Linked DNA regions of Homo sapiens: regions 1 and 2 are each linked to region 3. The links come from fine-mapping of genetic effects on gene expression. A gene starts in region 3. Each other region holds a variant in brackets. All regions are shown on one strand. Distances are from middle to middle.

Region 1 (10,020 bases), 29 kb after region 3:
AGGTTAAGAAAACAGAAAAGTTTTCTTCTCTGGTGGAGCAACTCCTTAAATTCCTAGGGCTACAAGAAAAGCACACCCTTGCTAAACTCCCTAACAATAAGAGCTATCAGGCAAATTCCTACCTCCGATTTACAACCCAGACCACCACAACTCTGATTGGACAGAGGACCTTAGAAACATTCTTTTCTGATAAGCAACTGAAGACGTCAAATCAGTTCCAGCAGCTTACAGAGACTGGGCACACATTGTGTTTGTCTCCTACAGTTCACTTTTTGATGGAAAAAGCCACATTCTACCTTATTTTTATGCTGAAACCCCACCCCAAAGGGAGCACGGAATGCATGGTAATACATCTGTGCCTATTGTGCGTGTGCTCACCTCCCCTCTCCACATGCATAGCTTTCCCCCAAACCTACTGAGTACATGTAACTCTATCGTGTGATACAGGCCCTGTGAGACATAAAATCCATTCTGCCCCTTCCCTCTTCAAAGAGAGAGCGCCAATGTCATATGCTGGAGACAGTCTCTTCCTGGTTTGCAAACTTATATTGCCAGTGTAACTGAAATAAATCCATGAACGAGGCACAGGGCTAGTCAATCCGCCAAGACACCAATTCACAAAGAGAAGGAGATTGAATCCTAGGACCCTGATCTAGAAGATGGGAAGGAACCTTAAATCCATCTCTCCAAGTGTACAATTCTCTCTGGGGCCTGAAAGCTTAAGGAGATGAATGACTCCTCCCTTCTCAGGCCCAGTCCCAGGGCGCAAGGCCACTTGTGTCAGCAGCGTGCATCAGCAAGTCAGCAGAAGCAGGAAGAGAGCCGGCCAGAAGACACCTACCCTGGCCGGAAGACAGGTACCCCTGAAGATCGAGAAAGAGGCCGTCTGTGTACAATGTAGCAGTTACATTATACTAGGACACTTCCTGTTTACAGGAGACTGTAAAACCTATGCCCCGTCCTCACTTGGGGCTGACTCCATTTTAGGCCTCAGCCTGCCTGCACGCAGGCACTCATTAGAACAGCATATTGCTCCACACTGCCTCCTGTTGTCTGTTGGCGTGCTCTGGGGGTTTGAACCGATACAAGAACCTTACACCGAGGAGTTTGGTATAAGGGATGTTAACGGTTTTGGAGTGGGCTGAAGTGTGGGGACGGTTGGTTGGTTGAAAAGTGCAGGGTGAAGTCATGGGATGGGGAAGTGGTGAAACTGTTTCTCATGCTGATTCTGTTCTTCTATGGGGGTCTTCATGCTGGTGGGTGTTTAGTAGGAATCTGGGATCTGGAAAACACCCTAGGCAGTTCTTAAACAAAAGCCTTATGATTCTAACATCAGAAATCCTATTCATAGGAACAATAGGGATGCCAGTGGTCAGTATCAGTGCTGCATGACTTTCAGTTACAAGGAAGTGGGTCAAAGTGCAGGCTGATTAATGCTTAATTATAACTCTATTTCTGTCCAGAATTCTTGCTAACCCTGTGAGGATGGCTTCACCAATAAAATACTCCTTTCTACTATTTAGCCATCCTAGTGGTCTTTTGAATGAAAAAGAAAGGCTGAGAAAGATGGAGTAGGGGCCTGCGGTCCCCCACCCCTCACCCCTCACCCCTCATTCACTTGCTGGTGCTCCCTTCAGCTCCCTTCAGCCCCCATCACTGGAGCTAGATGTCCATGAGCATTCTGCATTTTCTCTTCTTTCTGCTGACTAAAGAGTATCATGTTTTGCTGGTTTTTCTTCCATATTTGCTATTCTAAGGTGTTAGAAATGCTTAGAGCCAGAAAGACACACAAGAAACAACTGTGAAAGTTGATCATACAAATCGGGTCATTCTTATCATATCCAAATAAAACCGCCAAGAAGCCAAGAGGGAAAGGTGCTCAGGATGCATAACATTGCTCCAAGAATATAATTTTCTGCAAGCCTGGCTGCTGTAACCTGAAACCAGTTTTATCTAATAGCTGCTAAAATGACCTGCTGCAACTCTAAGACCAATTATACCCATTCCATTACTTACCAATCAAAAGTTGCCACCTCACCGGAACTGTACTAGTGCCAATGAACTTTCTCAAAGAGCAATACATAACACTTCTCTTTGTTATAAAACCTCCAACCATCTCTTTGTTCTTTAGACACACCGAAAACCACCCAATATGTGGTCTTGCAATTCTTTCTTCCCAAATAAAATGTTAAATTTAGAGGTTCATCTTTACCTTTTAATTCTTTGACACAACCGAATAGGACAAAGCAATGCATTTAACTTGTTCAACTGTTGATGAAATCATTGCAAAGGCAGCTCTAATTTTTTTTCAGACCTCAGTCTACTGACAGCATGAACAGAAAGAGAGGGTCTCTTTCTGCTGGTGCTTCGGTTTGAGAACCAGTGCTCCTGACTTTGGTTGGCCATTGGTGTCTGTCTGAAGAGGGTCTCCACTGCCCCCAGGCATGTTCCTTCTCTCACTGCTGCCCCCTGGGATGGAAACTCGACATCCCCTCTTTCCCTTCCTACTGGCACCAACGGTACCAGAGCAAACCCCACAATCTCCATGCCTACATTTCTTTGACATCCACCTGTCACCATCTTTGGAGGATTCAAGTGAAGTTCTTTGTCTTTTATGGGACAGAGATGATTCTCCACTCCAGAGGGTCTGGAGTGATTATAGGAATGTAATCGCCTTGAACAATCAGCGTGTTTTACAGCCTACTGCCCTGCATTTTGTGTGGAATGCAGTTGTCTTATTGCTTGGAACCAGCTCTCAGTAGACCTCAGCAGCTTATAGACAAACCCGAGTGAACTTTCCTCATGACCATGCTAGTGTCTCCATCCTGGGATGAGCCACAGCTTCATCACCATAACATGCAACCTATGTGCTGGTGTGATGACTCGCTGTGTCTGCACCACTGAGGCTCCTCCTCCACATGCCATGACGCGTCCTCTCTTCTCTCCATCTCCCCATGAAGTCCTCCTGTCACTTTCCCTCAGGGAGACATGGCTTTGGAGAGTACTCCCAACAGCATGCTTATTTGTGCCAAGTAATAAAACTCCTGTTGATCAAACCTACAGTCTCAAGGAGATTGATTTCTTACTTGCCAAGCAAAAGAACCTGGGTTTTTTTTTTGGGGGGGGGTGGTAAAAATAGTGTCTAATCCACATGTGCAATTAGCATTCCAGTAGACTTACACCATCAAAAAGATACTCTTTCTTCTGTCCTGCAGGGTGCCTTCTCCTCTGTCCTGCCATGGGTGAGGCTGCCTGGACTTAGGGGAGGCACTACCTTCCCTTTTCTTTGCTTTGCCTGCCTCACTGAGCAACTCTGAGGTATTACGGAGATGCCTATCTTTCCTGGTAATTTTAGCATTGTTACAATGTGCAGATCTGGACAATACTTTGGAGATGCCAAATACACAAGATAATGGCTGTTATTTTAAAGCTCTTCCTCCTCTGCAAATACAAGTTACTAAGATAATACAGAGGGCTTCACTATAACAGGTGTGGCTTTGGATGTATAAACAGTGCAATATACCAGAGTCTCTTGATTAGCTTGAAGTGCTGTGGGCTGAAATCAGGACCTTAGATCTCTGCCAGGGGTGGTAAATGTGCTCACTTTTCCTTCCAAACAATGGGTGGTGAGCCTGAAGGAAATGCCTCCAGAAAAGCTTACTGCTGTGCTACAACACCTTGTCTGTGTTTTAAAGGGCCACAATGGAGGCCCTCCCAGTCCACATTTGACTTCTCCCATGTATACTTTTCTTTTGAGATATGTTTATGACTTATTTGCGAGTTATTAGAAATAACACAACTGTTAGAAATAACACAGTTTCTTAAAAATATCTGTTTGTGTTAAGTTTCCAGAACTCTGTGACCGTGTTCAAGAGAAGACTGTCAGTAACGATAGCTACAAACCACACTCTATTTTCCGAGATCTTTTTGTTACGACAGACTTGCTGTCTAAAACCCTGCTTGGCCCATAGTGTTACTGGAAGGAGGTCCTGATCCAGATCCTAAGAGAGGGTTCTTGGATCTCACTCAAGAAAGAATTCAAGGCAAATCAATAGCGTAAAGTAAAAGCAAGTTTATTAGGAGAGTAAAGGAATAAAGAATGCCTACTCCATAAGCAGAACAGCCCTGAGGGCTTCTGGTTGGCTGTTTTTATGGTTATTTCTCAATTATATGCTAAACAAGGGGTGGATTATTCATGGGTTTCCTGGGAAAAGGTTGGGCAATCCCAGAACTGAGGATTCCTCCCCTTTTTAGACCATATGGGGTAACTTTCAGACATTGCATGGCATCTGTAAACTCTCATGGCGCTGGTGGGAGTGTCTTTTAGCATGCCAACGCATTATAATTAGCATGTAATGAGCAGTGAGGACAATCAAAGGTCATTTTCGTCACCATCTTGGTTTTGGTGGGATTTGGCTGGCTTCTTTACTGCATGCTGTTTTATCAGCAAAGCCTTTGTGACCTGTTTCACGTGTCAACCTCCTATCTCACCCCATGACCCCTTAACCTTCTGAGAATGCAGCCCAGTAGGTCTCAGCCTTATTTTACCCAGCCCCTATTCAAGATGGAGTCGCTCTGGTTCGAATACCTCTGACAACAGCCCATCTGTTCAATACGTAACTATTTAATTAAGTAAATTCCTGCATGTCTAATTAGCTCCTGTGAGTAGTTCATAGGCCTCGTTCCCTTTCGCAGAGCTGGGGTTCTAGGATTCCACGGAGTAGCAGAGACCTCTGCAGCCTTCTGGGGAAATGTGCTGTGTTTCCGCAGGTACTTCCCTCAGCCCCATACAGCATCAGGACATTCTCCAGGTGCTCCTGGGTAGGAGGGTGCCATGAGGGCTGTGGATTGAGTAGATGTGGGCTGTGGGACTGTGGGAACCTGTCTCTGAGCATCTGATTATCTGACTGCCACCGTGCAGGTGGGAAGGAGAAGCTTTAGAGTCTAGTGTTTTACCGCAGGTAAAGTCTAGTGTTTTTTACTGCAAGATATAGCAATCTTTTTTTTTAAAAAAATGTAATTCATTGAAATAAGCCTTCCTCAAAAATTCAACATGAAATGACAGGTGCTTTCTCATCTGTCACAGGCATCTCATGACTGGCCATGTTCAGGCCTTGGGCAACGTGTTTTTCTGCATATTTCGATAAGCCTTAATTTTGTGCTTTTTCTCTTGAATCTGACAACCAAGACACTAAGTTTTGTCAAAATAACCTGCGCTTATGAATTGCAGAATTCTAAAAAGATACAGGCGATTTGTCAAGAGCCCTTGAACAGCATAAAGCCCTTTTACCCGAGTCAGCATTGCCTCAGCCAAATCCCTGCATGGAACGACTGTCTGCAGCCAGCCCCTGGCACCGACTGTCACTGCCAACGAGTCTTTGCAGCGCAGGGCTATTTCCTCCACTCAGGCTGCCTCTGTTCACAGGAGAAAGCAGGTTCCAGGCTGCAGCTGCTGCATCCTGTCCCAGAAGGTCTTGCTGGGCATTTGCACTGACAGCCACTGAGTGGCACTCATGGCGTGGTGCCTGGCTCTTGAACTCCTTGCAGCTCTGGGGGTGCCTTTGGATGTTACTAGGGTAGATGGGGGAGCCAGCTTGCAGGTATCATGATCCTTCAGACCAAGGAGAGCCACCTTCCCAGAAAGACTCCCCTGCTCCCTGCAATGAGTGACATGGACCCACAGCGGGTCCTTTTCTCCTGTCTCCTGGAGAGACCCACTCTGGGGGTCATTCATGCTGTCGTCATGCAGTGGGGCTCATCCTGGCTCAGCTCTGTTCCCCATCCCCACCCTCTTCCCTTACCGTCCAATGAACACGAATGCTGGCCCACGTTCTGATTCTAGAAACCCAGCCCGGAACGCTGCCCTTATAAAGATGAGTCCAGAGC[G/A]AAGCCTCCTGCCAGCGTGTGTGTGTGTGTGTGTCTGTGTGTGTCGAGAACACAAGGCCAATGGTGTTCAAGGAACAAGTCACCACCCACTTCCCAAGTAGGGTTGTCAAACTACAGGATACTTGGTTAAATTTAAATTTCAGGTAAACAATCAATCATGTTCTAGGATAAATAAGTCCCAAATATTGTATGAGACGATAGTTTGGAGCTTACTTATTTTTAGTTTATTGCATAAGCTAAAAAACCACTACTTATATAAAATTCAAATTTAACTGGGCATTCTGTGTTTGTATTTGCTAAATCTGACAACTGTACCACTGTGTTTTTTGAGTCTGTGTCTATTTTGAATTGATGCAGAGCTTAAGAAAGCATTTGCAGCCACTCAGCTTCTCCTCATGAATAATAATTGTAGTAGTAGTAGTAGTAATAGCAATACCAGCAATAGTAATAGGAGTAGTGATAATTATAGCAACAGCAGCAGTAGTGACAGTAATAATTATAATAGCAACAGGTGCAGTAGTAATAGTAGTAGTAATAATAACAACAACAGTAGTAGTAATAGCAGTAGCAGGCATATTAATAGCAGCAGTGATAGTATTAAGTACAAATAATAATAGAAGCTAGCACATATTTAGTGCATCTTATATTTCAGGCAGTGTTCTGAGAGTGTTACACATATTAACTGATTTGATCCTCCAACTTCTCCCTTCCCCTGCAAGGTAGGGACTATTATGATCCACATTTTACAGATGACACAATAGAGGTCCTAAGAGGTGAAGTGATTTTTCCAAGGCAGCACAGCTGATAGACAGTGGAGTGGGCTTCAAACTCAGACAACCCAGGGTTCATGCAGTCTCTTAGAAGAGTCAGATTGCATGAGTTTTCCAGAAAAGTCAAATCATTTCCTGACCAAGGCCTAGGAATCTTTTTGGAGTGAGTAGGGATGGACAGGGAGTTGACCCCTTCTCTCTGCAGTGTCGCCGGTTTCTCATCCTGATCCTGCCCACATATAATGCAGGCATGTCCTCCTCTCTATTGTGTCTTGGGAAATTAACCTAAGCTTGTCATGAGCACCAGTACAGTCAGCTTCTTCTCTGGCTCCCTGTCTGGCCTACTCCCTGGGCTCTGGGTTTGTGGCAGGTACTACTCGTTTCCCCTCTGGTGCTGGAAGAGGCTCGTTCTGGCCAGGGAAGCACAGGGGTCTCTAGTATCCAGGTTTCTTCAACACTTATCAGTTAAGGAGGTTTGCATTCTTCCTCCAAGCACTCTGAAGAATATTCTCTGTTCCTGCTTTCTGCAAGTCTAAAAAGGTCACAGGTGGCCTGGCTAGCCCTCCCAGCCCTCTCAGCATCTGTGAAGGGTCTCTGCCTTGCTCTCCAGTTAGAACTAAAAGAGGGGAGCTGCAGCTGTGTTCCCTTCTGAGCGAAGGATGGAGGGGGGTTGTGTTCCCTTCAGAGCCTTCTGAGCACCTCCCCCCACCCCATGTCTCAGCACCTCTCTTCACTTTGCATTCCAGAGCACAGCTTCTTTTGATAGCTTGTTCAAAACCACTGCTGAACAAACACAACTATGATAGCAGCTAAGGATGGTTTCACAGCCGAAAGAATAAGAATGTGGGCATGGGAGTCCAGCTGACCCAGGTCTGATTCCTGGCTGACATTTGCCAGCTGTTATCTTGAAGCCATAACTTCTCTTCTCTGAGCTATGTTTCCCCTTCAGTAAAATGGGTATGATCTTTAAGGCATTCCCCTCCTTGCAGGGCAGCAATGAGGCTGAAATGAGGGGGACGTTTAAGTGGTCAGCGGGGGCCTGCAGAAAGGTCTGGAAAGGAGCTTTTCAGTTCTGGAAGAGACAATACTTGGAATGACCTGCTGTGAGCTGCCCAATTTTTTCAGGGTTTCAACTAAGGGCAGGCCCTGGTCTGTGCCACTCTGGGAAGTTAACACCCTGATCAATAATTTGCCTCTTTACTGGCATGAAGAACCAGAGGTCAAAGTTGAGAGGACCACAGCTGCTAGGGAGTGAGAATCCTGAGAAAAGGAGTCCAGAGAGGGGGTGCATGAACTCTGCTCGCTTCCCTGACCAACCCTTGAGCCACACAGGCACAGAGCAGGCGCCAGGCACCCAGCTGAGGATCAGGGAGCTGACTGCATTTGCTCTCTTCCCTGAAAAAGAGGGTTTCCAGTTTGAGCCCAGCTGAATTATTTTCCAGCTAAAACAAATAAGCAAGCTAATAAACAACCATTAGCATTGTTCTTAGAGGATAATTCACTCCACAGCATTCTGACCACAATGCCAGAAGACAATACGGAATTACTCAGTACATGAAGCACCAGGAAGATGACAACAGAAGAGAGAGGACCCAGACATTGGAATCAGCAGGTGAGGATGTTAAAGTGACTATTGGCTGTATGCTCAATGAAGTAAAGGAAGACATGCTTATAATAAACAAAAAGATGGAAATTCTAAGTGGAGAGAGAGAAATGATTAAAAATAGAAATTGGAGAACTTTAAAAATACAATGCCTGGAGTAAAGTTATTAGAATAATGTCAGGCACTCAGCAAATAGGTAGATGTCAAAGCAACGTGGAATGGAAGACATACTCAGTTTTATCAGAAAGGAACTACAGCAGAATAGAGTATACTTTTAGATAAAAATGTTATTCAGACGTCATTGATTATGAAGAAGCCTGTCTTTATGAAATTGAATTCCTCCTGAACTATTTCTTACAAAACACTCTTTCAGCAATTGGGCCATATTGAGCTGCACTTGAAGCCTGCTGCCTCACTGAATAGTGGGATCTTGGTGGGGGTAGGTGGAGGGGGATTGCAATTCATCTAAAAGCTTGTGGGTTTTGTGGCAGCATGGTAGAGAGAAAGAATACAGACTTTGGAAAGAGATGCTCATTCAAATCCTAGGTGTCTTTACCAGTTCTGTGACCCTGGCCCAGACAGTGTGTATATTTGTGCCTATGATTTTATTGTTGTTGTTGTTGTTTTTAATCTAGAAGGTAGATATTTTAGAAGCTGTGCTTATAGACTTGTTATGAGGATTTAATATGAACATTCATTGTAGTATGAGCCTGGCATATCATATCACCTCCTCTGTGTCTGTCAAATTTAACACTTTCTGAGATGTTTCAGATCCCTGGGGATTTTGTAATAGGCCCTTGGCTGAGCTTTAGCTGGGTCTCCGCAGGAACTTAGAAACTCCACACACAGACTGATGGGAGGAGGGACCTTTAGGCCTCCATTTGCAGGAACTGCTTTGCTCGGGCACCAAGATCAGCCCAGGACCAGGCAGAAGCCTGCCATGGGCAGCCTCAGCTTGAGGGCCACACACCTGAGGCCTGGGGAAGGGGAGCCCAAGAGCAGGTTCTGAAGAGGCCCCTTTTAGGATGAGCCCGATCAGATAAAGGGGAGGGAACTAGCCAACAACACATCTTTAAGGCCCTGGATAATAAAGTGTGCCCCAGTGAGGTAGGAGGTGGGACTCAATTCTGGAGATAGGTCTCAGATGTCAGACCACATTGAGGACTAGTTAAGACAGGGATGGAGTGGAAGTAGCTTTCCCTAAGATACATCCACCAGTGTGCCATGTGAGTTTACCATTGCCATGGCAACATCCAGAGGTTACCACCCCTTTCCATGGCAGTGAGCAGATGATCCAAAACTTACCATCCTTTTTCTAGAAATGTCTGCATACTCTGCTTTTTAATTTACATGTAATTAAAACTGGGTAAGAATGTGAGTGCAGACCTGCCTCTGATCTGCTGCTCTGGGCACACTGCCTGAAGGTAGCCCCACTCCATGAGGAGCAGAGCCTCTGATGCTGCTGTGCACATCTGCTTCAAGAAAATCTACTGTTTAACATCACAGACTGGCCCTTGAATTCATTCCTGCACGAAGCCAAGAGCCCTCTCAGGCTAAGCCCCAATGTGGGGCCTTGCCTGCCTTGTATCACCAGGGCAGGCTGTGGACCTTCTCTGTGTTCTGAGAGCAGCCCAGACGGTCTCACCTGGGTGGCTGTGCCTCCCTGCCACCCCCAGGCTCTGCAGCTTTAGGAGCACCTGCCATGCTCATGGTGTTCCCCATCCTGGGAGTGAATGCTGGGCAGTGAAGTGAACATTCGCT
Region 2 (10,020 bases), 77 kb before region 3:
CTTGGAGAGTGGCCCTCTTTGGGTTTTATCCTCAGCTCTTATGAAATTTTGGTGCTTCAGGGACAGTGTGTCACAGGCAGCCAAAAGCGCTGGATAAGCAAGAAGAGCCATTTGGAACTTTCTAAGTCTTATGCAAGTTTTGGCAAAAAAAAGAAAAAAGCCTTCCTTGCTACTTTTCAGGGAGGTCGATACTAACATTTGCCCCCCACCCAGGGTGTGAACTGGAGGCATCACTGCCTGGATGAGTGCCGGGGGCTGTGGAGGGTCCTCCGATGTGACTCTCATTCCCAGCATTTTTAGGCCCCATGTCTGTGTGGGGTGCCCAGCCTCATGCATCCCTCCTGTCCACGCCCAACTTCAGAATTACCCAAAACACCCAGCAGAAGGCTGCACTGCTTCGAAACTCTTCTGCTCTTCCACTCCTGGTTCCAGGCCCCCTGCTTCCGCCTGCTGCTATAGTCCACCTCCTCAGAATGCCCACCGTGTCTGTCTCCCTGCAAAGCCCACTCTGTCAGCTCTCAGCAGCCTCAACAGGGCTCAGGCTGCGTGCTGTACCCCAGCTATGCCCCAAACACCTGGAGGGTACCGCTAAAGCCTTCCGTGCCTCTGCCTTCCCACCATACTTGGTGGACTGAGCCTGGGCCAGGAACTGGGAAATGGCTTCCCTTTGGTCCTGGACTAGGGAAGGGAACTGACCCCGGGGGGGCCTATGGGTTGTCCCCTGGAGGCCAAGGTGGAAGGTGTTATCTGCCTTTTATGGACCAGAGTCTCAGGAAAGTTCAACCCCATTGCCCAGGCCACAGTCTGGCTGACATCAAGGCCCTGTGTCTTGCTCACACTCCCGGCTGGCCCTGTCCATGAGTGACACTGTAGGGTGAGATTTGTGGTTTGCAGCCTTTTTGTTTTTTTAAAAGCATTGAAACCCCTCTTATACCTAATACTACCAGAAGCCCCTATAAAAACACATAAACATAACATTGACCTGCCTGGGTTGAGAAGGGGCCTTGCACCCACGCACCTGCTCACCCTCACCTCTTCTCCCAGGGTCATCCCGGCAGGGGTCTTATCCGCACAGTTGGAAACACTGGGCTGGCCAAACTCCACCATTCCTTCCAGTGCTGATGGTCTGAGTCTGTTTCCTGAAGTGTGGCCTGAGACCACTTGCAGAAAAATCTCCTGGAAGTGTGTTACAAAGACCCCTTTCTGGAGTTCCTGCTTTCCCTTACAGTCAGATGGGAAGAGGAAGCAGGGATGGTATGCAGAAGGAAATCTGTGGTTTACAGCCTGTGTAGTGTTTTAGGCCAACTCTGGTTTGAGAACTATTTTCTTCTGACCTCCATGTCTTATCAAAGTAGATAAGAAAAATATTCCATGCGAGACATCAGCATTAGGCAAAGAATGAGAATGGAGTGAGGACACCGTGAGCAGCTGGGTGGCCCCTCTGCAGCCAGGGATGGTGCCACTGAGTCTTCTTGTGGTGCTGCATTCCCTTTATTGGAGGGTAACTGGGGAGAAGGCATGTCTCGGGGCCTCCGAGAAGGACTGTGCCCTGGGAGGCCTTCCCTCCCTCCATTTCTCTATCCTCTGCCTTGTCCCCACTTTTCAGGTTATTTCTGCCCTTCACGGTCCCACTCAAGTCCTGCCTCCCTCAGGGAGACCTCCCAGACCTCACCAAGCCGTGGGCACGTGGACCAGAAGCCGTGGACCCCAGAGGCTCATTTAGGGATCTGCTTTCTGAACCCAGGTCCTAACATCTGCACTGCAGCGAGCATTTCTGGTGCCTCAAGTGAGTCACTCCAACTTCCAGGTCAGTGCCCGGCACACGAGGGGTGCTTTTATTAGAGGTATTAGGTGAGGCCTCCCTGCAGGCAGTCCACACCCTCAGCTCCCAGATTTCCACCAGGGTCACCCAGTGGGAAAGGGCAGCTGCCTCTGCATCCCCATGAGCCCAGCTCGCCCTCTCTAAGGGACAGGGACCACCAGCCTCACAGTGGTGGGTGGCAACACCTGGTCATTTTCTGTCATTCTCCTGTCATGATCAGCTCACTGAGAGGCGATGGAGCACTGAGTGCCAGCATCTTCCAGCACCAGAGGAGCTGACTCTGAATAGACAGCTCGGCAGCGGCCTCAGCACAGAGCAGGGGTAAGGGTGGGGCCCACCTGCACTTCCTGGCCGCCTGTTCCCTAAGTGCATATTGATTGAATAGCGCTGCCTCAGAACTAGGCTGCCTGAGTTTGAATTAGGCGCTGGTGTTAATTAGCTGTGTGATCTTGGGTAAGTGACTCAATATATCTGTGCAAGGGGGATAACCATATGGTCTTCCTTATGGGGTTCTCATGATGATTAGTTCATAATATAAAGTTACCCCCCCACCCCATGCAGAGATGAGGCGGAGGGGCTGCCACCAACCAGGATGACGGAGGAAAGGGGGAGATGCTGAGCAGGCTGAGGGTTTCGTGGCTGTCCCTGCTGCTGGCTTCACAGTCTTCTTCCCGCTGTGCCACTGCCCATGCCAAAACCACATTCACCATCTATCCATGCAGCAGGGTGACCTGCAGTGCATGGAACCCCTGGACCCCTCGGCCTCCCAGGGCCAGCCTGCCCCATCCCTCAGCCCGGTCACTGTTCCCAGGCTTTAGGCCCTGTAACTCTGGCCTGTCCAGCTCATTTCCAGCCTACAGACCTCTCTTGGGTCCCCAAACCCTTACTTAGGCCCCAGCCAAGGCAGAGCCTGGCTGTCTTGGACCCTGCCTCTCCCTGCCCAGTGTCCAATAATCCACAGCACTCCCTTCCACAGCCATGGGCCCACCCTTGACAAGGGCTATGTGCCCTGGAACCCGTGCCTCTCACCTTCACGCCAAACTCCTCCTTTTCCTAGACCCCTGATTCCCAGCGGGCCGAGGTCAAGCTGCCTTGCCTAGTTTCTGTCTCCTGTGGCCCCTCGATGCCAGCTCCTCCCTGGCCAATCCCCATTACCAAAGTCCCCCATTCTAACTTCCAGTGCCCAGGCCCCAGTCCAGGCATCTCCGGGTCCATGTACTAACTGCCATGCCCATGTGACCCGAGTACCAACCTCTGCCCACTCCACCTGGAGTTAAACCTCCTGGCTGTGCTTCGGCCAGGCCAAGGGCCCTGATGTGCTGTCCCCAGCCCTTAGTGGCCCACAGCCCCTGGGTTTCCCTGCGTTTTGTGCCCCCTGCTCACATCCTGCTCCGTGAGGCCTGCTGGCTCTGATCTCCAGCCCAGGCCTGGCCCCGCATCAGGGCCCCTTTTCTTCCCAGGCTCATGGCTCCCACTGGTCCCAACTCAGGAGTGAGATTCCTCAGAATCCTGTGGCCCAGACTCCTTTCTTCTCCCACTCAGGCAGCCCCCTCAGTCCTGACTCCTTGGGGTCCCCTTGGTCCCCACCTCTTCGCTTCCTTTGATGCCTCCTTGCCTCTCAGCTTAACCTCTTTACTTTGCTGCCCTCCAGGAATTCTTGATTGTCCCTGACCCCAGCTCAGTCCCCTCCCCGAACCCCACCAAGGCAACCCCCCAGCACTCCTGCCTGCCCTCCCGCATCAGCCCTGATCCTAGTGCCCAAATCACTCTAAGTCCCCTTGCCTTCTGCTATAGCTGTATCTGGTGTTCTAGAATCTTCTGGTCTCTAGTTTTTCTTCCCTCCAGCCTGGCCCCTCAGGTCCCTGCAAGGCAGGACCTGAGCTCCCTAGGCAGGGGTCCCCTCTGCATGTACTCCTGCCCCCTCATTTCTGAGCCCAGGCCCTCAGGCAGGCCCCTCCTGTTGGAACATCTCAGGTTCAGCCTGTGACCCTGGACCCCCAGCGTCTGCCAGGCCCACGGGAGCTCCAAGCTCTGGAGACAGATCCAGACTTCCCCCAGGTCCCCTTTCACCCCAAAGCCACATTGTTTCCATTTAGAGCAGTGGCTGTCAACAGGGTGACACTGGGTGACATCTGATAGGTTTTGGTTGTTGCTCAACACCCTACAGTGCCCAGGACAGTCCCTATCACAGGCAGTGGTTGGCCACAAATGCCCACAGTGGCGAGGTGGGGAGACCCTGGGTTTGAGTGACAGCCTAAACCCAAGGCCCCAGGCTCCCGGGGGTGGGGGCGGAAGGCCAGGAACCCCTCATGTCCTGAGTAAAGTTTACATGTGGTTAGGCTTTGCCAGTGCCGTCCAGTAGTACTTTTTGTGATGATGGACGAGTTCTGTATCTTCATTGTCCCGTACAGGAGCCACCAGCCACAGGCAGCCACTGAGCCCTTGGCATGTAACCCGGTAACCCATGCAACAGAAGACCTGAGCGTCCAGTGTTGCTAGCTTGAAGTAACTTCAGTGGTGTTCCCCAGCGTTTTTCTCATCCCCCTCCCTTCCCTTCCCCTACAGCTTTCTTCCTCTTTCCCCTCCTTCTGAGTCTTTCGTCCCCAGTCCTGGGAACCTTTTTTCTGACTTGGTGTTTTCTCCTGAATGCCTCCTTCCTGGCCCCCTAATCAGAAATGCAGAAGCCACCTGCCCCACACAGGGGGCC[A/G]CTTTCCCTGCATCTGGCACTCACCAGGACAGTCATAGAACTGGCCTTGGGTGCTTGGGGAGAGTGGAGAGGTCTGGGGGGCATCCACTGGCCTCAGCCTCAGAGCTTCTCATCAGTAACCCAGGAGGCAAAGGCCCAGCTCAAGATTAGCCCAGGCCACTGTATCTGTGCCAAGACCTACAGCTGTCCCTGCAGGGCGTGCATCTCTGCAGCCCAGGCTATCACAATGGTGTCCCTTTTGGTGGGGATGTGAGGCCTGCTGCTGCCTGGGAAGAAGCTGACAGGATTGTTGGTGCTGTGGGGAGAAGCTGGTGTAACTGAGACCCATGAGGGAGGCCCTTTGTGGGTCTGTGGCTGGGAGGAGCTCTGGGGAAGATGGGCCTTGAGAAATCCCAGCTTAGCACCTTTGACAGTTGCTCCACTGAGTCACCCTAGACTGCAATCTCACAGATGTTCTAACCACCCTCTCCCTGGGGAGCCCTTGGGGGTGCTGCAAGCCCAGTCCTCACTCACTGGCTTTGTGCTTCTCTTCCCGACTTCCTTTTTTTGCTCCTGTTGAGAAATGTGGGTCCAGGGCTGCGTGCTCCAGTGTGCGGAAGGAAGGGCAGCGTGCTCTTTGGACTGAGCTGGCTCAAGGGAAGCTGGGTCTGAGGGGAGACTGACCTCGACCCTTCTTAAATGAAACACCTTTTCCCTGCGTCTCAGTCACCGTTACCTGGCCTGATCACTGTGTGCCACACCCCATCACATCCATCCCCACAAGAATGCCAGGAGGAGGGGTCATTGGCCTTTTTGTCAGCACAAACCTCTGGAGGCCCAGCTCCCAAGACCCGCCAGGCACACCTGCCAGAGTGCCTTAACTTGGGATGTCTGCAAACCTCTGTCCATGGCCGAACCCACCCCACTGCCTGTTACTGTAAATAAAGGTCTATTAGCATGCCACCATGCCCCTCCTCCGATGCATACAGTGCCCAGCTCAGCACCTGGTGCAAGTAAGCACAATCTGGCTTCCAGCCATCACTGCTGTTGCTACTAACACAAATATTAGGCCCCTTCTAGAATGCAAAGATAACCCAGGGCTGCTCGTTCTGTGTCCAGATCACAGAGTTTTTCTTTTTATCCTTATCAACTTTATTGAGGGATAATTTACAGGCAATAAATCATATCCATTTAAAGTTATTGTCAAGCTTTTAAAGAATTAAAGTTCGTCTTCTTCAGAAGCTTACCGAGGACTACAGGCTGTGGCGTAGAGCCCTGGAGCAGCCTCCACTGAGGTTCTGTATTTCAGGTCACAGTTGACATATAGGTGGGAGGTCCAGTACGTGCAAAGTCACATGAAAGCTTGGGTGTCAGAGTGCATCAGGTTATGGATTCAATTACAGAGCAATAATCACTGACCCTGTCAGATGTTATCTTACGTGTAGGAAAAGGTAAGACCAGGGCCATTTATCTGCAAAGAATATAGTGACTCAGGCAAGAGTCCGGAGAGGGTGTGTGCTCCATCCTGTTTTGTCTTCAGAGCATCTTTCTGGGGAGCTGCACATCGTTATAGAGACAGGCACTTTGTGAAATTCTGCTGCCAAGCACAAATGAGCAAACGTGGTTTCCTATGTTTACTACTTTGTCTCACAAAGCGCACATTCACAGTGCATTATTAAGGGGCCCTGGCAGCACCGCCACAGTGTATCTCTGCTCCCTCTTAAAGTTCCCCGTGCCCCTTGGCAGACAGGCCCCTCTCACTCCTGGGCCCAGGCTACCATTGACCAGCTTTTTGCCACTAGAGGTTAATTTTCATTCTATGTGATTGGAATCATACAGATGTTCTTGTATCTGACTTATTTCACTCCACATAGTGATTCTGAGATTCAAATGTTGTGTGTATCAGTTGTTTGTTCCTTTTTATTCCTGAATGGGAGAGGGGATGTCAAGCTGCACAGTTTTATTCCTGGGCTACAGTGGAGATGGATGGTTCTACCGTCTCTCTGAAACACCATCTGCAGTTTCTTCAAAATCTACCTACACATCTTCCATCCCATCCTGAGGAGTCCCCGAGGGTTGAGAAATGCATGACCCCACACCTGGCTGACGTGTACAACTGGCGGAGTTAGTTTTTCCTGTTGACACTGGCCACGGGCGCCTCAGCATGCACAGCCCTGGCCTTGCTCCTCTAGGCATGCTGGGGGCTTGTCCACACGTGTGGTCTACGGATGGAGGAGAGTGGCCTCTGGCCCATGCGTGCCATGCACTGGACCTTCCCAGGGAATCAAGTTACATGATGTTTCCTTGAGGAGCTACATACAAAGTAAAAAACTGAAATCAAGAATATCAGTCATTTCTGAATATGCCAATTCGCCCATGGTGCAGTTTGTACAGCTTAATCACTGCAGAACAGTTTTGAGGATAAAATTAACCAAAAACCTAAGTAGACAAAATATTCAAATTTTTGGAATCTGTCACAAAAATCCACAGATGACTTATTTTCCATTGTAGCTTATAATGTCCAAAAGCCTTTCTAGTGACTTATAACTGATGGTGAGCTCCCACTCTGTGGCAGCTGTGGGACACTGGTCTAAGGACTACACCCTGATGCCTGGTGAGTTACAGAGGCCATGAGAAGATGTCAGTGAACCTGAAAGCCAGGGAGAGGCTGTGTTCCTGCCGGACTGTGGGGCTCCTTCGCTCCCCTGCTGTGGCCCTTGGTCAGGCCACTTTCCCTCTCTGGGTGTCAGTGGCTTCATCTACGAAGTGATAAAAAACTAATGCAAACCAGAGCAAAATGAGATAACACGGGGACCCCTAATGTCCCAGGGAGATGGTGAACTGAAGCACCGCGTGCGGTGAGTTGTTGCTGTCTCCACCCCTCAAGGAGACCGCAGCTTTGCAGACGTGTGGGTCCCATCATCGGCCCCATTCTACATTCCTCCCTGTGTCCCTGCCATCGCCAGGTGACTTTGCTGGGCCCTCCCACCGCCCTAACTCCCAATCCCAAGATCTTCAGTGAACGTGACGCGCACAGCAGAGGCCCAGAATGTATGTGTGCATGTGGTGACAGCTAAGCCTGCCTGGAGCAGAGCCCCAACCCTGCAGCAGCTCAAACAAGCTGAGATCAGCAAATGCACATCTGACTCTCAGACATGGGGGCAATAATAATAAATGCTGTTTGAGTTTTGGGGTCTTTGGCTACACAGCAATTGCTCACCAATATGACAGGGTTGTATGACGTGGCCATGCGGAACTGTATTATAGGGGAAGTGGTGAACAGTGTGATGAGATTTTAAAGAGGAACAGATTTACCACTGACTTTAGAAATCATGGAGGAGAAATCTCTGGGGTTGCCCTTGAAGGGTGTGTGGAGGAGGACATGGGAGAAGGGGGAAGAACCGTGGCATCCTGGCTAAACAGACACAGGGCAGAGGGAGCCTCTGTGTTGGGACTAAGATGGGGATGTCGGGGAAGGGACATGGCAAGCTGACTGTTGGTGGGGAAGGCACGTGTGGGGCTATATTGTGATCATTGTGATGTATATACATTGTCACCTCCTACTGTCTCTGAGTCCGGCTGTCCCAAGCCCCCGCCGTGGAATCCAGCAGTGTTCGGGCCAACTCTCAGAACCTTGGCTTTGTCTGGGGGACCCCTCCCAGACCACTTCACCTGCAAGCCCTCCCACACGGTGACATGACAGCCCCGCTGTCACTGCACATGATGGAGGCCCATAGGGTGGCCGACCACACTCCTGCCAGGTTGTGGGGACCTCTGCCCAGGCGCTGACCCTTTGCCCAACTGGGCAGTGCTCCAAAGCACTCAGAGTAGGAGTGCAATCATTTTTCATTCTTAGATTCAGTAGGCACACTATTTTGTCCAATTTCCATCCTTGCTTCATCATGTTAACGAATTGTGTGGACCTGTGGTGGCTCCAGGCACTGCTTGGCTTAGCATAGGCTTAGGGCACAGACTCAGGTCAGACAGGGCTGGGTTTACATCTCACTCTCAAATGGTAAGATCTTTTTTTCTGGTAGGGGAAGAAGAATTAGTAAAAATCTCTGAAACTCAAATCACTCTTGCTCCAAAACCACAGGAACACGTAGATGCTCTAGTTGACATATGAACACCCCGTAAATGTCATCATCAGGGTTGCTAATCAGCTGTACGTAGAGAGGCAGTGCTGGTGTCATCAAAAGCACAGCAAAAATAACAACAACCTGGAAGCGAGGAATGGATTCAGATCCTTCTCTCAGAAGGGGCTTTGTCCTGCCGTCGTGACCTCTGCTCAGTTCCCCAGGACAGGTGGGGGCCTGCAAGCCCAGCAGGTCCTCCAGGCTACCACCCTCCCCCTCTGCAGCCCCCACCACCCCCACCATCCTGTGCCTGGCCCTGGCTCACCAGCCCAAGCTGACCACCAGGCAGGTCTCAGCAGCAGTGCTCTCCGCTGGAAGTCGGCTCCTGCTTCTCGGGAGGCCTGAGCTCAGAGATGCAGGATACAGAAGGCTTCAAACTCCTGCCTTTCTGTTAAGAAAAAGGCTCTTATCTCTTGAGGAGTCACAATTCAGATAAGAGGCATCCAGCAGCAGGTTCCAGAGCTGGGAGGCCCGAGGAAGTGCAGCTTCTTGCTCAGGCATGGGACGCACAGGGGCGCTGGGCAAGCATCTTTTTGTGGATACACATGCCTGGTGACAGCAGTCCTGGGGGTGGGGCGGGGCATGCGGGGGGCAGGAGGGGAGGAACCCAGGAGCCATCTGCCCGACAGAAACAAGGCCTGCCGCACAACATCCAGGCGCAGGGGGCTAGTTCCGAGAGGAAAGTCTGCTTTCTTGGATTTGGGGCAAGTTTCTCATGTATCTACTTCTTCATCTGCTGATTTCTGTGGTGAACCTCCTCATCTGGCAAGATAAGGGGCAGCTTGAGAGATGGAGGGGGGGATGGGGTGCAGGGTAGGAGGAAACCAGAAGCAGGTCCTGAAAGCTGCAAGAAGTCGGTGCTCTAGGAAGGTGCTTGAGGTCTAGGCTGCTTGTGCTGGGAGACAGAGTGAGGCAGGACAGAGCCCAGACTGTGGCTTTGGTGGAATCCAAACAAAGTTAGCGGGTTTTGGCTGGGGGCGGGGGGTGGTGGCTGAGAAGAGAGTGTGCCCTAAGGAGTTGGGAGTGTCATGGGAGTCAATTATTTAATCAGCAAATGTCTCCTGAGGGTCTCTCCTGTGCCAGCCCTGCAATAGCTGTGCTGTGCAGAAGGTGAGCAAAACCAACCAGTGGGCTCCCAGCCCAGGGTCCCTGCTGGCGACAAGTTGTCGGCTACCACCACACGCATGCTTCTCCCCACACGCGTGCTTCTCCCTAGCCAAGCAGGAGGCAGTGGAAGAGCCTCTGGGAACCTTGTCCTTCAATGGGCAGTTGTGAATCATGGCAGAACCCTTCTTGAGAAAGGCAAGGTTGGAAAAACTGGAACCTGCCCTCGCAAGGCTCAAGTTGGAGACATCAGGGGCCCAGAGGCCAGAAAG
Region 3 (10,020 bases):
ATATTGAATACAATCAGATGCCGAATCCAAATTCTAGGGACTTGAGTGTTTTCTTTTTTGCTAAAATTTATTGAGAGCTGACTACGGCTCCTCTGTTCTAAATGCTTTACATGTATAACCCATTTAATCTTCATCCTAACACTTTGAAGGAGGGACTATTCCCATTACACAGTCAAGGAAACTGAGCTACACGGGGAGGGGTTATTAGTCAAATCTTAACAATAAACAAAAACTTGTGAATGCCGGAGCTGGGTCTCCAGTGCAGCCAAGTCGGCTCCAAAGTCCACACTCTTAATTCACCCTGAGGCTCTGAGGTCCCCCATCCTTGTCTTTGCAGGTGAATGTGAGAAAATCACCCTGGAGAGGACAAAGAAACATCTACCACAGGTGCTCCAATAAGCTCTGGGCACTGTCTAGTTACAAAGCGTGCTGTTAGGTGTAAGGGGATACAAAAATGTGTGGGAATCTGGAGTATAAGTGCAGCAAAAAGTGTGGTATATGCATGATTAGGTACAGGGCAGGGAGGGAGTGGTGAGTACTAAAGAGCTGAGAGAACGACCTGTCTATGGGAATCACAGACAGATCAGTTCTGGTTGGGTTATTCAGAAAACTTGCTGATGGGGAAGCTTGAACTGGGACTTGAAAGAATGGAAAGATTTCAGTGGGTGAAGAGCCTGGCAGACGAGAATGTTGCTAGCAGAGGGAGAGACATGAACTACAGGGTGGAGATGAGCGGACAAGGTGCTTCTCTGACAGTGAGCAGGAGCCTCCCTTGCCAGGATGTTTCCTCATTCATGGAGACCAGCAGAACACTGGTCCTTGAAGCCTTGTGAGGTGCAAGGGGTGCAGGCTCTGGGTCCAAATTCCAGCATAGCCCCTTGAGTGCAAATTTTCTCATCTGTGGCCACAGAGTAGAGGCACTATCGCGAGCATCTTCAGTGCGGAGGGGAAAGAGTATGGGCTCTCCCAGCGGGTGGGAGCAGCACTGAGGGAGTATGAGGATCAGAGTAGCCTCAGCCACGGTGGAGAGCTGGAGAGATAAGCAGCAAGGAAAAGAGCTGGGGACCCAACTGTCTCAGCATAAATTGAGAAGGCAGGAGCAGTGATCAGGGGAAACAAGACACAAAAACTAGGCAGTGGATGAAGGAGAGCAGAAAGTCAAAGGCAAGTGCATGGTTTAAAACCTCAGTGGACCAACTATTGATACTGGGAAAGATGGGGTAAGGGTCCCTTCTAGAATACTCCCTCCCCAATCTCCTTGGACACTGCTATCACTGCCAGGGGAATGGGTAAGTTCACCAAAAGGTGGGTTGTAAAGAGATGATGAAGACCACCAGCAAAACCTTGAGAATGGCCACTCTAGTGGGTGGTACAAGAGGATCCCAGGGGCCTCCCCAAGGCTCACAGGAGAGGAAGGGAGGAAAACATGTGTCTCAAAAGTAATTGGAGGAGGAGCCTTGAGAATGGTGAAGGGTCACAAGTGCAAATGGCACCAAGGCTTCTAGAAGGATGGCTGAAAACAAGATTTTGGCAACAGTATTTAGGACCAGATGGGTGTTCTTCAAGGGAGCTGTTTCAGGAGTAAAGCAAGTCTGCTGGTGGGCCAGAGTGAGGGTGCTGGGCCAGGAACTGGGCCAAGCATTGGGAAGTGGATGTGTTATCTGCAAAGGGATAGGAAGGAGTGGCCCACCCTGGTGTGCAGGGGGCACAGATAGGAAGATAGGGATGGGGCAAGAACACAGACAGGGGACCTTCAGTCACCAGAAGGTAGTCTAAAATATGCAAAGCCTCCAAGGTATTGGCTGGAGAGGAAAAACAAAGCGGCTGAGGGCAGGCCCCACAAGGCAAAGGTATCCTGAGGGTCAGGGGTAAAGCCCTTACAGGTGGGAAAGCCAAGTGGGTCATGTCCACCCATCCTTGTGTAGGGCAACCCAGACACTGTGGTACCCCCCATGGGACAATGCTCTGCTTCTATCTGTTGTTGCTCTAGTTTCTTTCTAATACAGAAACATCCAACATCTGCACCTCCTCATATAGGGTTGATCCAAGTTTCACAGACATCACTGAGTTCTTAGTGGACTCAGCTATTGGGGCTGTTCTCACACTTTTTTTTTCTTTGCAAGAATCAGCAATGGGTGCAAGTGGACCTGTGTAGGACGTCCAGTGAAACATTGTGTTGGTGAATCAGCTAGAATCCATCCAAGAACTCAGCCAGCCTGGTGTGGGGTGAGATCTGATCCTTGAATGTCCCTCAGTGGCTTTTAGGGCTGGCAGGTTCAGAAGGGCCCTCTCATCACCCCCCCAGGGCCTCATTCCTTGTTTAACACTTTGCTATCACAGTCTTGAATCCTTGTAATTGAACAATGGACCCCACATTTTCACTTTGCACTGGTTTCTGATTCTGTAACCGATCCTGTCCCCCTCTCTTGTCTCATTCACTCTGGGAATTGTCCCCACATTCTGAGACCTTTCAGCAGTGCCCCAACGAGGTTCCTGCCCTTATCTGAAGCTCCACCCTCACCCCCATGGCGGCACCGCAGGCAGCCCTGCTTTTGCGTCCCGCGTAGGCAGGCTGTGCACCGGAGTCACGACCCCCTGATTCAGCCTAGGCAGCCACAGCTTGACTGCTCCCGCCGGACAAGCCCTACTGTGCTATCTGCCGCTCTTCCCTTCCTCTTCCCAGGGGGTCCGCGTCAGGGGAGGCGCAGCTGTGTGCATTCCGGGAGCTTCAGACCCCCGTGTCCAGCAGCTCCTTCGTTTCCTGGGTGCTGGGGCGGCCTTCCCAGCGAAGAGCTCAACTCAGCGGGACGTTTGGAGGCTCTCTGCCCCAAGGCGCTGGGGAGTGTGCGGCGGGACAGTCGTGCTTGCCTTTTTCACTTTCAGAGTGTCCACGCCCCACCCGTTTGGTCACTGCAGGTCAGTCCAGTCCAGCCCGGCCCACCCCACCGGTGCGTGTCTGTCGCACGTGGCAGACGCCATACTCTCTGTTCTTGTTTAAAGCCCAGGATCTACTGGGCCCTGGAGGCAAGAGGTGAACGCAGCGGAATCCACGCTGAGCTGCCCGGGAACGGAGCTTCCAACCCCAGAAGGAGGACTCTGTGCTCCTACACCTTAACCCTTTTTAGCCCGAAACTTCTCCAACTTCCTTGGCTTTGTTTAGAGCTCGACAGCGCCGCCCCCTGGCGCTCGTTGTGAGGACAGTAGAGGAGAGAGGCAAGGGTGTTTTTAAACAGTTTGCCTCTCACCATTATGGGGGCGACCCGAGGGGGAGACCCACTCTTCCGCATTCCCGGTAAGTGAACCACCGGAAGAGGTCGAAAGTGACGGATTCCCATGTCCTCCTCCAGCCCCCCCCCCACCCTGCCCATCCACAGGACGGTGGCTCTTCAGTGCCCTTTGCCGAGCAAGTGGCGTTTCTATGCACGTGGGTATCAATTCGGACTCTGGACGAAATGGAAACCTCCTTAGCCGACCCGGGTGGGATCAGCTGGGATCCTGCGCGCTCCCCTGGGGGGTTGCCAGCCACTCTGTTGGGGTGCAAGAAGCACCATCCTTCGGAAGCTGGGCCGAAACTGGCCAGGCTGACTCGCTCCCACGCGCCCGCCCCTACCCGGCGCCGCAGCAATTCACCTGCCACCGCCTCTGAGCCGGGTCCGGACTTCGGCGCCCTGACAGTGTCCCCGCGACTTCCCCACCCGATGAGATGGGGTCTGGCGTTGGCCAGTGCGTGTCCAGGGACTCGCGGGTCCCTGGCCAGCCATGGGGCAGAGGGCGCTGGTGTTAGGCCAGTCTTCCCCACCCTGCCCCGTCACCCCAGCCACACCCACTGTCCTGTGAGGCCAAGCGCGCTCCGCTGGTTTCCTGAGCCAGGCACCTTGGCCGCGGACAGGATCCAGCTGTCTCTCCTTGCGATCCTGTCTTCGGGGAAGTCCACGTCCTAGGCAGGTCCTCCCAAAGTGCCCTTGGTGCCGATCACCCCTCCCAGCGTCTTGCAGGTCCTGTGCACCACCTCCCCCACTCCCCATTCAAAGCCCTCTTCTCTGAAGTCTCCGGTTCCCAGAGCTCTTGCAATCCAGGCTTTCCTTGGAAGTGGCTGTAACATGTATGAAAAGAAAGAAAGGAGGACCAAGAGATGAAAGAGGGCTGCACGCGTGGGGGCCCGAGTGGTGGGCGGGGACAGTCGTCTTGTTACAGGGGTGCTGGCCTTCCCTGGCGCCTGCCCCTGTCGGCCCCGCCCGAGAACCTCCCTGCGCCAGGGCAGGGTTTACTCATCCCGGCGAGGTGATCCCATGCGCGAGGGCGGGCGCAAGGGCGGCCAGAGAACCCAGCAATCCGAGTATGCGGCATCAGCCCTTCCCACCAGGCACTTCCTTCCTTTTCCCGAACGTCCAGGGAGGGAGGGCCGGGCACTTATAAACTCGAGCCCTGGCCGATCCGCATGTCAGAGGCTGCCTCGCAGGGGCTGCGCGCAGCGGCAAGAAGTGTCTGGGCTGGGACGGACAGGAGAGGCTGTCGCCATCGGCGTCCTGTGCCCCTCTGCTCCGGCACGGCCCTGTCGCAGTGCCCGCGCTTTCCCCGGCGCCTGCACGCGGCGCGCCTGGGTAACATGCTTGGGGTCCTGGTCCTTGGCGCGCTGGCCCTGGCCGGCCTGGGGTTCCCCGCACCCGCAGAGCCGCAGCCGGGTGGCAGCCAGTGCGTCGAGCACGACTGCTTCGCGCTCTACCCGGGCCCCGCGACCTTCCTCAATGCCAGTCAGATCTGCGACGGACTGCGGGGCCACCTAATGACAGTGCGCTCCTCGGTGGCTGCCGATGTCATTTCCTTGCTACTGAACGGCGACGGCGGCGTTGGCCGCCGGCGCCTCTGGATCGGCCTGCAGCTGCCACCCGGCTGCGGCGACCCCAAGCGCCTCGGGCCCCTGCGCGGCTTCCAGTGGGTTACGGGAGACAACAACACCAGCTATAGCAGGTGGGCACGGCTCGACCTCAATGGGGCTCCCCTCTGCGGCCCGTTGTGCGTCGCTGTCTCCGCTGCTGAGGCCACTGTGCCCAGCGAGCCGATCTGGGAGGAGCAGCAGTGCGAAGTGAAGGCCGATGGCTTCCTCTGCGAGTTCCACTTCCCAGCCACCTGCAGGCCACTGGCTGTGGAGCCCGGCGCCGCGGCTGCCGCCGTCTCGATCACCTACGGCACCCCGTTCGCGGCCCGCGGAGCGGACTTCCAGGCGCTGCCGGTGGGCAGCTCCGCCGCGGTGGCTCCCCTCGGCTTACAGCTAATGTGCACCGCGCCGCCCGGAGCGGTCCAGGGGCACTGGGCCAGGGAGGCGCCGGGCGCTTGGGACTGCAGCGTGGAGAACGGCGGCTGCGAGCACGCGTGCAATGCGATCCCTGGGGCTCCCCGCTGCCAGTGCCCAGCCGGCGCCGCCCTGCAGGCAGACGGGCGCTCCTGCACCGCATCCGCGACGCAGTCCTGCAACGACCTCTGCGAGCACTTCTGCGTTCCCAACCCCGACCAGCCGGGCTCCTACTCGTGCATGTGCGAGACCGGCTACCGGCTGGCGGCCGACCAACACCGGTGCGAGGACGTGGATGACTGCATACTGGAGCCCAGTCCGTGTCCGCAGCGCTGTGTCAACACACAGGGTGGCTTCGAGTGCCACTGCTACCCTAACTACGACCTGGTGGACGGCGAGTGTGTGGAGCCCGTGGACCCGTGCTTCAGAGCCAACTGCGAGTACCAGTGCCAGCCCCTGAACCAAACTAGCTACCTCTGCGTCTGCGCCGAGGGCTTCGCGCCCATTCCCCACGAGCCGCACAGGTGCCAGATGTTTTGCAACCAGACTGCCTGTCCAGCCGACTGCGACCCCAACACCCAGGCTAGCTGTGAGTGCCCTGAAGGCTACATCCTGGACGACGGTTTCATCTGCACGGACATCGACGAGTGCGAAAACGGCGGCTTCTGCTCCGGGGTGTGCCACAACCTCCCCGGTACCTTCGAGTGCATCTGCGGGCCCGACTCGGCCCTTGCCCGCCACATTGGCACCGACTGTGACTCCGGCAAGGTGGACGGTGGCGACAGCGGCTCTGGCGAGCCCCCGCCCAGCCCGACGCCCGGCTCCACCTTGACTCCTCCGGCCGTGGGGCTCGTGCATTCGGGCTTGCTCATAGGCATCTCCATCGCGAGCCTGTGCCTGGTGGTGGCGCTTTTGGCGCTCCTCTGCCACCTGCGCAAGAAGCAGGGCGCCGCCAGGGCCAAGATGGAGTACAAGTGCGCGGCCCCTTCCAAGGAGGTAGTGCTGCAGCACGTGCGGACCGAGCGGACGCCGCAGAGACTCTGAGCGGCCTCCGTCCAGGAGCCTGGCTCCGTCCAGGAGCCTGTGCCTCCTCACCCCCAGCTTTGCTACCAAAGCACCTTAGCTGGCATTACAGCTGGAGAAGACCCTCCCCGCACCCCCCAAGCTGTTTTCTTCTATTCCATGGCTAACTGGCGAGGGGGTGATTAGAGGGAGGAGAATGAGCCTCGGCCTCTTCCGTGACGTCACTGGACCACTGGGCAATGATGGCAATTTTGTAACGAAGACACAGACTGCGATTTGTCCCAGGTCCTCACTACCGGGCGCAGGAGGGTGAGCGTTATTGGTCGGCAGCCTTCTGGGCAGACCTTGACCTCGTGGGCTAGGGATGACTAAAATATTTATTTTTTTTAAGTATTTAGGTTTTTGTTTGTTTCCTTTGTTCTTACCTGTATGTCTCCAGTATCCACTTTGCACAGCTCTCCGGTCTCTCTCTCTCTACAAACTCCCACTTGTCATGTGACAGGTAAACTATCTTGGTGAATTTTTTTTTCCTAGCCCTCTCACATTTATGAAGCAAGCCCCACTTATTCCCCATTCTTCCTAGTTTTCTCCTCCCAGGAACTGGGCCAACTCACCTGAGTCACCCTACCTGTGCCTGACCCTACTTCTTTTGCTCTTAGCTGTCTGCTCAGACAGAACCCCTACATGAAACAGAAACAAAAACACTAAAAATAAAAATGGCCATTTGCTTTTTCACCAGATTTGCTAATTTATCCTGAAATTTCAGATTCCCAGAGCAAAATAATTTTAAACAAAGGTTGAGATGTAAAAGGTATTAAATTGATGTTGCTGGACTGTCATAGAAATTACACCCAAAGAGGTATTTATCTTTACTTTTAAACAGTGAGCCTGAATTTTGTTGCTGTTTTGATTTGTACTGAAAAATGGTAATTGTTGCTAATCTTCTTATGCAATTTCCTTTTTTGTTATTATTACTTATTTTTGACAGTGTTGAAAATGTTCAGAAGGTTGCTCTAGATTGAGAGAAGAGACAAACACCTCCCAGGAGACAGTTCAAGAAAGCTTCAAACTGCATGATTCATGCCAATTAGCAATTGACTGTCACTGTTCCTTGTCACTGGTAGACCAAAATAAAACCAGCTCTACTGGTCTTGTGGAATTGGGAGCTTGGGAATGGATCCTGGAGGATGCCCAATTAGGGCCTAGCCTTAATCAGGTCCTCAGAGAATTTCTACCATTTCAGAGAGGCCTTTTGGAATGTGGCCCCTGAACAAGAATTGGAAGCTGCCCTGCCCATGGGAGCTGGTTAGAAATGCAGAATCCTAGGCTCCACCCCATCCAGTTCATGAGAATCTATATTTAACAAGATCTGCAGGGGGTGTGTCTGCTCAGTAATTTGAGGACAACCATTCCAGACTGCTTCCAATTTTCTGGAATACATGAAATATAGATCAGTTATAAGTAGCAGGCCAAGTCAGGCCCTTATTTTCAAGAAACTGAGGAATTTTCTTTGTGTAGCTTTGCTCTTTGGTAGAAAAGGCTAGGTACACAGCTCTAGACACTGCCACACAGGGTCTGCAAGGTCTTTGGTTCAGCTAAGCTAGGAATGAAATCCTGCTTCAGTGTATGGAAATAAATGTATCATAGAAATGTAACTTTTGTAAGACAAAGGTTTTCCTCTTCTATTTTGTAAACTCAAAATATTTGTACATAGTTATTTATTTATTGGAGATAATCTAGAACACAGGCAAAATCCTTGCTTATGACATCACTTGTACAAAATAAACAAATAACAATGTGCTCTCGGGTTGTGTGTCTGTTCACTTTTCCTCCCTCAGTGCCCTCATTTTATGTCATTAAATGGGGCTCACAAACCATGCAAATGCTATGAGATGCATGGAGGGCTGCCCTGTACCCCAGCACTTGTGTTGTCTGGTGGTGGCACCATCTCTGATTTTCAAAGCTTTTTCCAGAGGCTATTATTTTCACTGTAGAATGATTTCATGCTATCTCTGTGTGCACAAATATTTATTTTCTTTCTGTAACCATAACAACTTCATATATGAGGACTTGTGTCTCTGTGCTTTTAAATGCATAAATGCATTATAGGATCATTTGTTGGAATGAATTAAATAAACCCTTCCTGGGGCATCTGGCGAATCCCAGCTGTGTGTCCGGTGTATGGTTTGGCATTATCTCCTCTGCGAGATATCCAAATTCACTGTAGTCATGAAGGGTCTCAGTTTGTGGCTCTCATTCAAATATTCATTTCTAAACGTCTCATCCAGTATGAAATCATTCTCATCTCTTTTGGAGATTAACAACATCATCTTTTCAATGCACACGTTTCTTGGGCTCACTTTTCTAAGGTGGTAGGGCTGGCTGAATGCAATATGCAGGGCTCGGAAAGATTTTTTAAAGAAGAAATTAAAAGCAAGTAGAGTCCAGGCAAATATTCAGATGCTTTATATGTCTGGATAATGCTGAACTCATGAGTTTTAGTTTGACTGATTATTGTGAAGACCGGGTTGGAGATTTTGACATCCATCGCAGAAGAAGTAATGGCTTTAGTGTGTGTGTGTGTGTGCTGGGGAAGCTCCATGCACAGTGCCCTATGGAGATAACAAGCTGAGCCATGCTCCCCCTAAGTAGCAGACTAAGTCTTTGTGAAGGAAGAGCTACACAAATGGGGGCAGGACAGGTGCAGATAAATGGGGCTGGGAGACCAGAGGAGACAGTGACACCTTATAGTTCGCCCCCTGTTACCCAGCCTTCTGTTTGTCAAAAGAGTCTGCTCCCAGTCACTGTCAAACTGACTTGTAGGGCCTCATTGCGTTAGGATTTCTTCTTATTCCAGAAGAGGGGCATTTTCTTAAGGAACACTGGAAGACCAAAACACACTTTCAAAACCTAGAGGCAAAAACCCTTCATGCAGCACTTGGGCCCCAGGACATTAGTTGTGCGGGGCCCTGAGCTTCCCTGTCCTCCTCACTTCCTGCTGCCTGGGGGATCAGCAGTTCTGTTTATAGGTCTCATCTGAACTTGAGATTCTCAAAACGCTAAATAGCCATAGTGCCTCTCAGGGAAAGATACCAGGACCACATAAACAAATCAGTTAGCTTTAAAAACTATCCCTGAGAATTTAAAATCAGGATAGACCTTGTGAAACCAGAGCCATGGGTCAACCTGTGTGATCTCTGCTTTCTGTTCACATCATTGGACATCCAGGTCTGAGGGAGACTCCCAGGGACCAGTTGCTGGTGAAATTTCATAGCACAAAAGTCCGGGGCAAGAAAGCCAAGGTGGTATTTCTGGATAAGCCAGCATTCAAGTTTGTTTGTTTGTTTGTTTGTTTGTTTTTCCTAGCCTGCTGTTTTAAAGTAAACAGAATGCATTTTTTTAAGTCAAATGACTTTGTTATTTTTTTTTTCCAGTTCTCACCTATTTCTTAGATTAGTTCAGCAATTATTTACTGAGCATTTACTCTGTGCCTTTCATAGTGATAGGCACAATGACAAGTCCCTACCATATAAGTTAGACTCTGGCAGGGGAGAAAGATGCAAAACAACTGATCACCCCCAAATTGTACTTAACTTAGAAACAGTGATAAGTGCAGGGGAAGAAAAGCACAGCACACTCTGAAAAGGCGCACGAGGAAGGCAGGATTTAGAGTGGAGGACTAGAGGGAGCTTCCTGGACAAGCTGAC

The links. PIP is the estimated chance that this variant, and not a neighbour inherited with it, causes the effect.
Region 1: its variant is fine-mapped to the expression of THBD in whole blood (TOPMed, PIP above 0.99).
Region 2: its variant is fine-mapped to the expression of THBD in whole blood (INTERVAL, PIP above 0.99).

The regions. Positions count from the first base shown.
Region 1 is chr20:23,015,004-23,025,023 of GRCh38, reverse strand. It overlaps LOC101929707 (a long non-coding RNA gene), which reads left to right. Exons shown (of 4, transcript XR_937352.2): 2 at 8,166-8,268. Among named protein-coding and RNA genes, the nearest start is that of SSTR4, 15 kb to the left of the region's middle. The variant G/A (reference allele first, on the strand shown) is at 5,887.
Region 2 is chr20:23,120,752-23,130,771 of GRCh38, reverse strand. LINC00656 (long intergenic non-protein coding RNA 656) reads left to right here. Exons shown (of 4, transcript NR_034149.1): 2 at 1,607-1,807; 3 at 2,043-2,143; 4 at 4,234-5,704. Among named protein-coding and RNA genes, the nearest start is that of LINC00656, 6.9 kb to the left of the region's middle. The variant A/G (reference allele first, on the strand shown) is at 4,530.
Region 3 is chr20:23,044,091-23,054,110 of GRCh38, reverse strand. It overlaps THBD (thrombomodulin), which reads left to right and starts at 4,439. Exons shown (of 1, transcript NM_000361.3): 1 at 4,439-8,478. The coding sequence starts at 4,607. The coding sequence ends at 6,334.